Regions from separate parts of the Homo sapiens genome. Here region 1 is linked to region 2. Evidence: fine-mapped expression QTL. Tissue or cell type: whole blood. Region 2 holds a variant in brackets; the other region holds the start of a gene. All regions are shown on one strand. Distances are from middle to middle.

What was found. PIP is the estimated chance that this variant, and not a neighbour inherited with it, causes the effect. A credible set is the group of variants that fine-mapping cannot tell apart.
Region 1: it holds the start of MACROH2A1, and the variant in region 2 is the best candidate, but not a certain one, in a credible set for the expression of MACROH2A1 in whole blood (INTERVAL, PIP 0.85).

The regions. Positions count from the first base shown.
Region 1 is chr5:135,396,041-135,401,411 of GRCh38, reverse strand. MACROH2A1 (macroH2A.1 histone) reads left to right here and starts at 2,181. Exons shown (of 9, transcript NM_138610.3): 1 at 2,181-2,350. RefSeq lists enhancers at 924-1,429, 1,430-1,935 and silencers at 1,836-2,295, 2,306-2,475, 2,786-2,845.
Region 2 is chr5:135,373,676-135,379,046 of GRCh38, reverse strand. All of the region lies in intron 2 of MACROH2A1 (macroH2A.1 histone), which reads left to right. Among named protein-coding and RNA genes, the nearest start is that of MACROH2A1, 23 kb to the left of the region's middle. The variant G/A (reference allele first, on the strand shown) is at 2,171.

The sequences.
Region 1 (5,371 bases), 22 kb before region 2:
AGGTGACAATCACTAAATAGAGTAGAAACTCTGTATGTTTAATGTTAAGTGGATATAGATAAAAAGGCTGGAATGGGAGCAGGCTGTTCTCTCCTAGCAATGAATGTAGAGTGAGTTTTATTTTTTGAGCATTTTTATTTTTCATGTTTTCAGAATGAGCATAGCTTTGTCATTGGAAAAAAATAAAAAACCTTTAACAGAAGAAGAAGCAATAGCAGCAGCAGCAGCTGGTACCCCTCTCTGAGCCAGATTAGGGGAGGAGACAGGTCACCGAAGTGGAAGAACAGGACACACAAAGCGCAGGAGGAGAGAGGGGAGAGAAGGTGGAGGCTTCTGGAGAAGGATGAGGTCAGAGCTGCTGCACTGAACAGCTCCAGAGGACAAAGGTCCTAGTGTGTTCTATGAGAATGGCACGCTGTAGAGGGGCATGGAGGTGGGGCCGCCCCAAGATCAGCTCTTGGAGGAGTGTAGACTTTAATTCCACCTGGTGGTCCCTACAGAACGGAGAGTCCTTGCCCAAAGGCACAGAGAAGGATGGAACAACAATGTGGTGTGTGGGGGAGGGTCTCTGCACCTTTCCTGACATCTTTTCTTCGGGAGATCCTCATAGAACCATAATGCTTTGTTTTGGGACCAGAAGCATCATAAGCATCATCATTTTTCCAGCTTCATCTCCTGTTACTTTCCCCTTCACCCATTCTACTCCAACCTCACACTCGCTCTGTCTTGACTATTTTGGACACACTCCTACCCCAGCCTTTGCACTTGCTATTCCTCATGCTCGGCGCAGTTCTTCCCCAGACATCCACACGGCTTGCTCCCTCAATTTCTTCAGGCTTTAAATGTTACTTTCTCATAGAGGCCTTCTCTTGTATTTGAGCCTCACTCTTATCTCACACTTCCTATTCCCCTTCTCCGCCTTATTTTTCTCCACCCCATGGAGACCCTCTGACACATTCTCCCGTTTGTCTGTCTTTCCCCCACGAGACTGCAAACTACAGGAGGGCAGAGATTTCTGCCTGTTCTCTTGGCTGTTTCATATCCAGCACCCAAATCGATGTATGACACAAAATACGTTCTCAGTACTTAATCGAATTAACGAATGCATGAATGGCAGGTATTGGACATTGTTTTGCAAACTCTTAAAGTAAGGTGTAAAGCATCCCGGTGAGGTGGAGGTTACTGCCGCTGCGATTCCCGCGCAGCCTGAGGACTGGGGGGTGGGGGTGGGGGTCTCTAATTACCTCCATAATCCCCAGTAGCGGCACTTTAAACTTCACATCAACCCTGAGGGATGTGTATTATTATCCAAATTTAGTTCACAGCTGGATGGAGAAGTGGCTTCCGGCTCCACACTTTGGAGGGAGGGGAGTAGAGGGCAGGCCCCCATTTAAGTACCCGGGATGGGGCACCAATGCCTTCAGGCGGTAAACCAATTTAGGAAGACGTGGCGGGCTTTGTGGCGGCTCCTCCTCTTTCGGCCTGTCCGCAGTTTTTAAAAAACGTGTGTGATGATAAGGAATCACTGTCTACATTAGTAATTCCCAACTTGGGTCCGAAAGTGAACTTTTGCTGAAGCGAAGTAGCTAACCGCTTCCATGTGCAAGGCAGGTTCCAGACTTCGGGGTGAGGAGGATTAACTGAAGGACCCCAGGGGAACCGGGTGCGCAGTAATTGATCTTGGGGCAGACCAGGGCTTGGCGGTGGCCTGTATCTAAAGACAGCGGGGTCTCTGAGGCGGGGCAGGGGGGAGTTGGCATTGACTGGGGAGGGAAGAGCGATCGCTGGTAACAGCCATTGTGCCTTCCCACTGGGTTAGTGGGAAGGTTCCTAAAGATGCCGTGGCAGCGACAGTCCCGTGCTCAGAGCCAGGCACACAGTAGGCGTTCACTCGAGACGCAGAGTCTGGGACGCGCCCTGAAGAAGCTCCTCTCCAGGGGCCTGGCCCTTCCCAAGGACTGGGCTCTGGGCGTCCCCGGGGTCATGGGTCAGACCTCGCGTCCGGGGTGCGGGCTGGTGCCTGGGCGCAGAGCGGCCGGCGTCAACGGGTAGGGCGCGGGCCCGGGGTCAAGGCCGGGGCGCCGGGCGGCACGGGCGCGGAGGCCGGACGCTCGGGGCCGCGAAGGGATGTGACGAGCGGCGCGCTGTGCATTGTGGGAAGCCGGCCGCGAGGACTGGTTCCAGTTCACTCGGCAGCGGCGCCGGGCGGAGGGGGAGAGCGCGGGCCGCGCGGGCGGGAAGCGAAGAGGCGGGCGGGCCAGCGAGGAGCGCGGAGAGAAAAGGCGCGAGCGGCCAGGAGGGCTCAGGCCGAGACACCTTGCAGCTGCCGCCGCCGCCACCGAGCCGCCGCGTAAGTGCCGCGCGGGCCCCCTTGCCGCACTCCCTGTCCCCGCCGCTCGGGTCCGGCCGCGGGTGCCCGGGAGCGGCCCGGCCTGGCGCGCACCGGTGTGGTGCGGGCCGGGCTCGGGCCGCCGGGTTCGGTGTGGCCCACGCCGGGTCCTCGCGCGTGCACTACGTCCTCCCAGGCCTTGTCGGGCCGCGCGGGATTCCCTTTGGTTTTGTTCAAAAAAGAAACCTGGAAACCAACTTCTCTTCGAAACGCATCCCCCTGCCCGCGCCTGGGCGCTTTTGTGGGAAAAAAGCGGTGCTGGCGCCTACCCTGGCGACCCTTCCTGGGGCGGGCTCACGGGCCAGGCCCGAGGCCGCAGGAGGCCCCGCGGCGCTGGCTAGGCAGTCTGGGCCTGGGCACCCGGGAGCTGCTGTGAGCAGAGTTGTACTTGGTGAGGCCCCCGCCGGCCCGCGAGTTGCCGGCCCCGGCACAATAAGTCGGGCCCGAGCCCCGGGGGGCCGAGGTGTAGGCGTCTGGCTCGCTATCTGCAGGGAGGGGAAGGCGGGGGCTACTCGCGGGATTGAAGCCGGGCTGGTGCGGGGGACCGGGTTGGGGAGTGGTCCAAGGATGGGCTGGAGAGGGGCCACGGGAACCCCCGCTGCTCCCGATTGTCTCGGTATCAGCCTTTTGTTTGCTTTGTGGTAGGAAGGGTTTGCTTTTTTTAAAAGGTAACTCCGGAAGGCTGTAGGCTTCCCCGGGTGGAGAAGGCCAGCAGGAAAGAGCCTCGCTGGGGGTGGGGTGGAGTGGGGAGGTGAGTGTGCAGGATGCTGCTGGCAGTGTCACCTGACAACAGGTGTGCGACATGGCGCTCCCTACCCCCACTCCTGCAGGGGCCACAGATCACTCAAGGAGTTGGTCAGTACATTGCTTGAAAGGTTCTTTTAGACAAGATGTTAGGGGAAATGTTTCTGAGTTTCAAAGTGAGAGACTTCTGTACAAACAACTGGGACAAACCTTGAATTCAACAATTACAATGACTATAAAGGCCTTGTAAGATTTTAATGACCCAGTAAACAGCACATAAGAATAGACAATTAGAGGGGGCACTCCTGCTAGCTTCCCTCTTTTCTTCCACCTTTGTGGTTTGAGGTTTTACCGTTAAAGTAGGGGGTAAGGGAAGTGTTTTGTTCCAAAGCTCCCTGCTCCAGGGAGTCGGGCATTTTTTAACAGTCTTAGGTTTGAATGGGAGACTCGAGTTGTAAATTAGGTGGAATTCACCTACTGCAGGCCACCTTTAGGCTACTAGCCTGTTGTCAGAGGTGTTAACTCTGAAATGGACACCTCTTGCCTGCAACTGGAATTAATACCCATTGTACACATTTAACTAGAGTTGGGCAGCAGCATCTCAGTCTTGCACAAGAGACTCTCTGATGAGGATGAGTATGTTTTCAAACTTATTTTTTCTTAAACACAACAAAACTCTTGAAAGACTTCAAATTCTTCCCCCTTCTAGTTTTACAAGGAGAGAGAAATCTTTCCAGTCTGTTCTTTGGCTTCGATCTGTCACCATTGTTAATGCTGATCCCTAGATAAGGCATTAAGAGGGTTGTCTAAATGAAAATTGTTTGAGGCAGGCCTTTAGAAGGAGGCATAATTTAACTCACATTTTATTAAACTTTAAGAATTGTCTGGAACTTCACATGTGACATTCTAGTATACAACCATGCCACTGGTTTAGTTTTTACCAAATGGGCCAGTGTCAGGGAGTGACACATCTCCATCTGATGTTTCTTCTGGTCCCTGAGAGAGGCGAACTTGAGGAGCGCCTCGCATTCCTTCCCCACTGAGAAGCTCAGAGGGCATGTGTTCTGGGACCTGCCTTCAGAGCTAATGCGGCCCCAAGTCACCTAAAGGAGATTTATTTAAATAAAAGCATAAACTGAAAACCTCAAGCCGAAGAACCCAACAAGACTCTATATGTGTTGTTCATCAGAACTGCAACAGCCTCTGGTTTTATTTGAGTGTCCCCAAGGATTTGTGACAGCCTTTTCAGAGCCCCATTCCTAGAACATGGGCTGGGAAGGGGCAGGAGTGATTGGGGCCCAGATCTCTGTGGGTCCTTCCCATATTCTGTAGGTTTAGAGGTCTTTTGGGCCCTGCCTCAGTGCTTACAAGTGAGCCTGAGTGAGTCAACTCTTCATTCCAAAGAGTTGTATAGCTTGTTTGCTTGGACCAAACCTGTCAGGTCAGTGTCTCAGAGTCTTTCCATAAAGATTTCCTGAGAATCAGCTCCTGTTCAGGCACTGGGGACACAGCCGTGATTAAGAAATGCCTAGCCCCTACCTTGGGGGAGCTGACTTTGGGAGAAGGCAGGCAAGTAGCTGTTGTAAAATCAGTGCAAAAGGCCCCACGTAGCCCCCCAGCAGGTACAGTAACCTAGCCAGGAGTGAGCCCTTATCTGGCTTGGAAAGGTCAAGCAGGAGATGGCTGGGCAAAGGAGGGCAGATGGGGACAAGTGTTTGAGGCCTGGGGAACCCCATGTGTGCATCTTAGAAGAAAAGAACAGAGGTCATGTGGGGAACTGCCAGAGGCTCGGGATGGCTGAGTCCTGGTGCGGAGTCAGGTGAGGCTTCAGGGAGGGACAAACAGGACAAATCACAAAGGATTCTGGTCAGACCCACACTTTATCCTAAGAGCAACTGAAGGGTTTTGAGCAGGAGAGAGACAGGATCAGGTGTTCTTTTTATTCTTATTGGGAACACGTCTACTCGGCAAATAATGAGTGGATTCTACATGCTAAGCCTTATCAGAGTCCTGTCCTGTGAAGCCCACACTTTAACTTTTCTCTAAATAGCCTTCCGTGAGACTGGTTATCTTAAGAGTTTGGCACAACCTTTAAAAGAGAGAGGAGTATGTAGAAAAGTTTTTTTGTAAAGCAGGCAGGCAGTAACTTGCTGTTAAAATGTAGCAAGCTGCACAGTTCCTTCAGTGCATCTCGGGAAGCGCATCACCGAATGGGTTTGCAGAGGTGAAATTTCAATC
Region 2 (5,371 bases):
TTTGGTTCACATTTATGTTGCCTCTATAAATCTGAGTATTGACTGCTAAAAGTCAATATCTGCTGTTCATTCAGAAAATGAGGGTACTTAACTTGAGTAGCATTGTTTTTCTTGCCCTTTCACTCCCACCCCAGGCCCTGGCAGTCTCTAGTTCATATTCTAACTGTGGCTTGTAATACTAGTTTTAGGGACTTCGGGGGAAGTGCTCTGAATTCTAGGTAAAGGTGGAACAGTTAAGTTCCAAAACATCTGCCGTATGTTGAACAGTTACTGTGTGCTAGGCACTGATTAAATGCTTTACATTTGGTAATTCATCGAATCCTCAAACCACCTAGCTTTCTTAGGAGTAAATTGAGGTTCAGAGTTTAAGTAACTTCTCCAAAATCACACAGCACAGAAACCTTAGCAGTCAGAGGAATTGGACCCCAGAGCACTTCATCCACTTGGCATTTCCTTTGTCTTGAAGCAGCCACCGTACACCTCAGGAAGACTGGTAAATGCCCGGTCCCCAAGGCTGGCTCGATGAAGACACAGCCTGAGGGGACAGACTCTGCAACAGTCATGGGTGATTGCCAGAGACATTCCTGTGGCCTCGTATGGGCAGGGAGGACAGGGGTCCTGCAAGATAGGCCTTGAAGGATAGGCAGCCCTGGACAGGGATGAGGAAAGTCTAGAGCGCACAGGCAGGAGGTGGGTGTGAGCACAGGAGGGGCGAAGTCCCCTGGAGTGACATGTGCTGGCCCGCCGGGAAGGGGCGGTCTGGTGCATGTTAGAGCTGCTGCTGTAGCAGTGGCAGAGCAAGCGAGGTACTGGGCAGAGAGCTGCCCTGAGGAGCCACAGCAGGCGTCGGAGAGGGCAGTGCCCAGTCAGGTATGGGGAGCTTGTGTCACTCAGTGGCACTGAGGAGGGCTGGAGAGTGGGAAGCTTTTTGGCCAATGTCCTTTCATTGTCCCCTTAGCGAAGAGGAGGTGGAATCCTAGGTGTTGGAGCTTAGGCAAATCCTTAGACAAGCAGTCCTCAGCATCGGGAATCCACACCGGCAGACAGCACAGAGGCCAGGCTGGTAAAGACCTCAGGAGCTATAGTGCCCTCTCAGGGGCCTCCCTTTCTATGACACACTCACACTGCTCTAAAAACAGCCATGAAAAAAGAACCTAGAAAGTCTTCGCATGCTCAGAACCATTTTTTGGGAGAAGCAGGATTAAGCAGGCTGGGACAGAGTGTCTGAGGGTAAGGGGGCTTGTGACCTGTGGTACCAAAGGCCAGCTGGGGCAGCCGATAGCAGAAGTGCCTGCAGCTTCTCATCTATCCAGTGTTATAATTATTTTCATTTTGAAAGGAAAATATGCAGAAGATAAATTCAAACAGCACAAAAGGGAGTAGAGCAAAACGTCTCCCTCTGACCAAGTCCCTGATTCTGCTCCCAGTGGGCGAAGCTGCTCCCCTGTCTTGATGAACATGTGTAGCCCGATTGCAGACGTCGCCTCCTCCCCCAACACAGTGCAGCCCACGAAACTCACTGTTCTGCTCCTCGCTCTTTCGCTTTGAGTCCATCTGGGAAACCGTACCATGACAGGGCTCCTTAAATGAGTTTCCTCTTTACATTATACTCTTCAAATCATTTCATTTCAGCAGACATCGCTGATTGTTCACCCCTTCCTGAGATGAATTAAGAACAAATGGCTGTGGTTTTCCCTATCAAAACAAACATACATATTAACCATTTCCTTGTAACTTAATTGAGAGTCCTTGACAGCAAGTGATTGGTGGGTCAGAGGTCCTGCCCAGCTGCCAGCCAGGCCTTGGAGTAGAACAGGTTTCTCAGGGCCTCCCCAGGCACCTTCTCCTTCCCAGGGCCTTGACTTCTACTGCCTGAGCCACTGGCTCTGCACGCTCTGCTGTGGTCAGACAAAAGCCCCAGACCTCATTCCAAGGTAGAGATGCCTGTGGGGGCGCCCTGGGTGCTGTGTTCCATCAAGGCAGGTCTGGCAGCACCGAGGTTAATCGAGTTCAAGTGCATTTTTCAAACATATGTTAACTGTTAAGCATAACAGCAAAGAGTAAACTATTGGCAGAGGAAACACCAGGTTTTCTGTTGCTTTTTTCCTCCTTTTGGCACAAATCCATCCATCGAAATCATCCAGTTATAGATAGAGGAAATCGAGGCAAA[G/A]GAAGTGCAGTTTTCTCCTGGTAATCAAGCTTGTCGCACTTTTTTAACAGTGCAGTTGTAGCCTCAACAGTAGTAGCTTGAATTTACTGAGTATACTAAGCATTTTACTTGGTAACTCATTAATCTCATAAGCCTAGAGGTAACCTCAGGTATCACTCCCCCTGTACAGAATAGGAAACTGAGGCTTAGATGCACTTGGCCACATCTTACAGATAATTACAGGAGCTGGGATCCAAACCCCGACGGTCTGTCAGCAGACCCCGGGCTCTCACCACAGTGCCATTTGCGATTGCTGCCCTCCCCTGCAGACAGAGCGGGCAGCTGAAACAGCACCAGAGGTGAGGAAGGCAGAGGAAAACTTCCTGACAAGGAAGATATTCGGGCACTGAGTTGGGTTGGTGGGTTAGATTAAGGTAATGTTTGCTAAGAATCATAGCTCCCCTGTGTTATTATGTATAATGTAAACTTATTTATTTTTTACTTTGAAATAGGGCTGAAAGTTCCAGTCAGTGGAACTTACTTTACAGATTCCCAAATTAAGCTGCATTTCCATCTTATTGGGAGACTTTGTGGGAAGGCAGAAGACTGGACCAAATGCTGTCTCTGAGACCCCTGGCTCCTCCTGGACTTTTCGGAGGAGTCTGCAGTGGGCTTAACAACAGTAGAGGAGTTTGTGTCAGGCTTGGAACCATCTTTGGAATACTACTTTCAATCACTGCTGTAGGTTTTATTTTCTCTATGGAATTCTGGTTCCTTTGAGGCCCCTGGGACAAGCAGATGGAGAGCTTTGCTGTGGCCCAGAGCTCCCAGCTGATGGCTGGGCAAGCTTCAGACCCTGCCACTCAACCTCCTGAAAAGGTGGGATGGGGGCAATGGATTCTGGGATGCGGCTGCAAACACTCAGAGCCACCAAGGGAATTGGAGGAGGTTGTGGTGTGGTCAGAATGCAGGAAGCTCTTAGCAGTCACCTTCCGATTGGGGTTGATTGGGTTAAGGCCTTCTGGGATGGTGTAAAACAGTTCTGAACTCAAAGGACTGCTGATGGAAGGATGATGAATCGAAAGAAATACAATAAACAGATTCCTTGTCATGTTGTTGGCCTTGTAGCAAACATGTTTTCTCCTTGGGATTACGTGAACATTTGCTTTTCTTTGATTTCTGGTTGTTATTTTCAGTATTTCTTTTGTTAAATGAGCTCTGTTTTACAGAGCTTCAGACAGCTCCGTTAAAGCCCCTGACTCTTTCCTATTGCAAGGGTTGTGTTTAGAGTTTGGCTCAGCCTCAACACATCACCTGTTAGCTGTTAGGAGTCTAATTCTGCAAACCATGACTTCATCTTGCTGAAGGAAGATAGACAAAATGCTTCAATACAACAGATATGTTTTAGTTCAAGACATTTGGAAAAAAGAAAAAGGACCCTAAGCCTTTCGTCTCTGGGTGGACTTGCAAAGTAGACCTGTCAAAGGTATTCATGTTCAGACGGCTGGTCTGTAGTCAAAAAGGCTGCCAAACCATGCTGTTATCCAAGGATGTGGGAATTTTGTCAAGCGGCCTTAAAACAGTCATGTTCAATGAAGCTGGGGAACGTTTGGCCCAGGATGTCCCTGCAGGGCTTGCAGCTCTGAGGAGAGGGAATATGGTTGCATCATCTAGGCCACTACAGATGATGGTGCCAGCCACTCACTAGTTGCCAGAGACTGGCCCTGGCCAGGAGTGAGAACCAGAGGCTTATGTGTTTTGAAAAACAAAAATCTTAGAAGAGTTAATGAGCTGGCCAGTTTGCTCACCATTCAACTTGTTCCCTTTGCACCATTTATAATTGGGAACTTTACCACACTTACAGTCCTCTTCAGAGCAGACCCTAAGCGCCTTGGGCCCCAAATCAGTCTAGTATTGGTCATTGGTAACAAAACTTAGACTGTCACCGACTGAGAATACTTGGCTTGATGGGGTGGAGAACCTGGTAAGGGGTTCTGTTTCTTCTCCTAATTGTTCTTTTCCGTTTCTTCCTGTGGTTTCTTATGGATTCCATTTATTTTGGTTACAGCCTCCAGGCTGTGGCTCCTGAAAATTTCCTTCAAGAGAGAATCCAAGGGCTGAGCTCTGGAAACTCTGGAGAAAAGGATTTTTGTGTCCATAGATCTGGTGTTTTCCTGGTTATCTTTCTCAGAATCGCTTTTCTTTTAGACCAGCCACAGACAAAACAGAGACTCACAAAACCTTCCAAAACATGAAATGAATTGAGTGCAAGAACCCACCCTCCCCCTTGTAGGAAGGCATCGGCTCCATTCACTTTGAGGCAGAGGCTTAAGTTGGCTCTGTTCTAGCCTAGGAGAAAGCCCTCCTTGCTGGTGGGAATGTGAGGGCCATCCCAGTGTGCATGGGGGGCAGGCAGGCATTGCTGTACAGCCCTGAGCCTGGGGCCTCCATGACTTTGCCCTCCATATTATTGCAAAGCAGAGGATCACTTACAGGGAAGAAAACTACATCAGGACATCTCCTTTGGTGACGTGTGCCCTGTCCCAATTCCTCAGCAGTCAGTCACCCTCTCCGCTCCCCCCTGAATAGGAACATGCCCTGGAGAGCAGATGGGAACCGTTCCATCTTGTTGAGTTGCTGGCATTTTGCACCTCTGCTGTCTCTGCAGCAGGCAACTCTTTCTTAGCCAGGAAAGCCCTTTACGATGGCTTTTTCTAAACCTGGACTAAGGATGAGAGGGTGAGTATTACTGATGGTTGGCAGGGGATGAGTGTGTATTCTGGGTTACTGCTTTTGTTAAGTCGGGCACCCTCCATTTTCCCTGGCCATGGTGAAATGCCCCGGCCCTCTGCTGCTGCAGCACAGGAGAGGGGTGGGACACTGAATATACTTCTCATAAAAGGTGTGTTTCTGAGGTGCTCTGTCTTGTGTGTCCCTTAACGATGGGGTTACTATGGTAACTATCCATCTGAAAAAAATGCAAGAGTAAACAGAAGATAAAGCTCTTGCTTAACTAGCTGGAAGGTGGATCTGTGCCCCTCTTTGTTATCCCTACTTGACACAGCTCCCTCCTCCCTACCCACAGGGCTGAGGGCCCACCCTATGGTGGTAGGAGTATGGAGAGGCAGTAATTTTGGCTTGTGCAGATAAAAGATGAGCTGGGGTTTTGCAAAAAGGAAGAGTCTTGGATTCTGGGGCTCCTTGGTAAAGAAGGCAACAGAA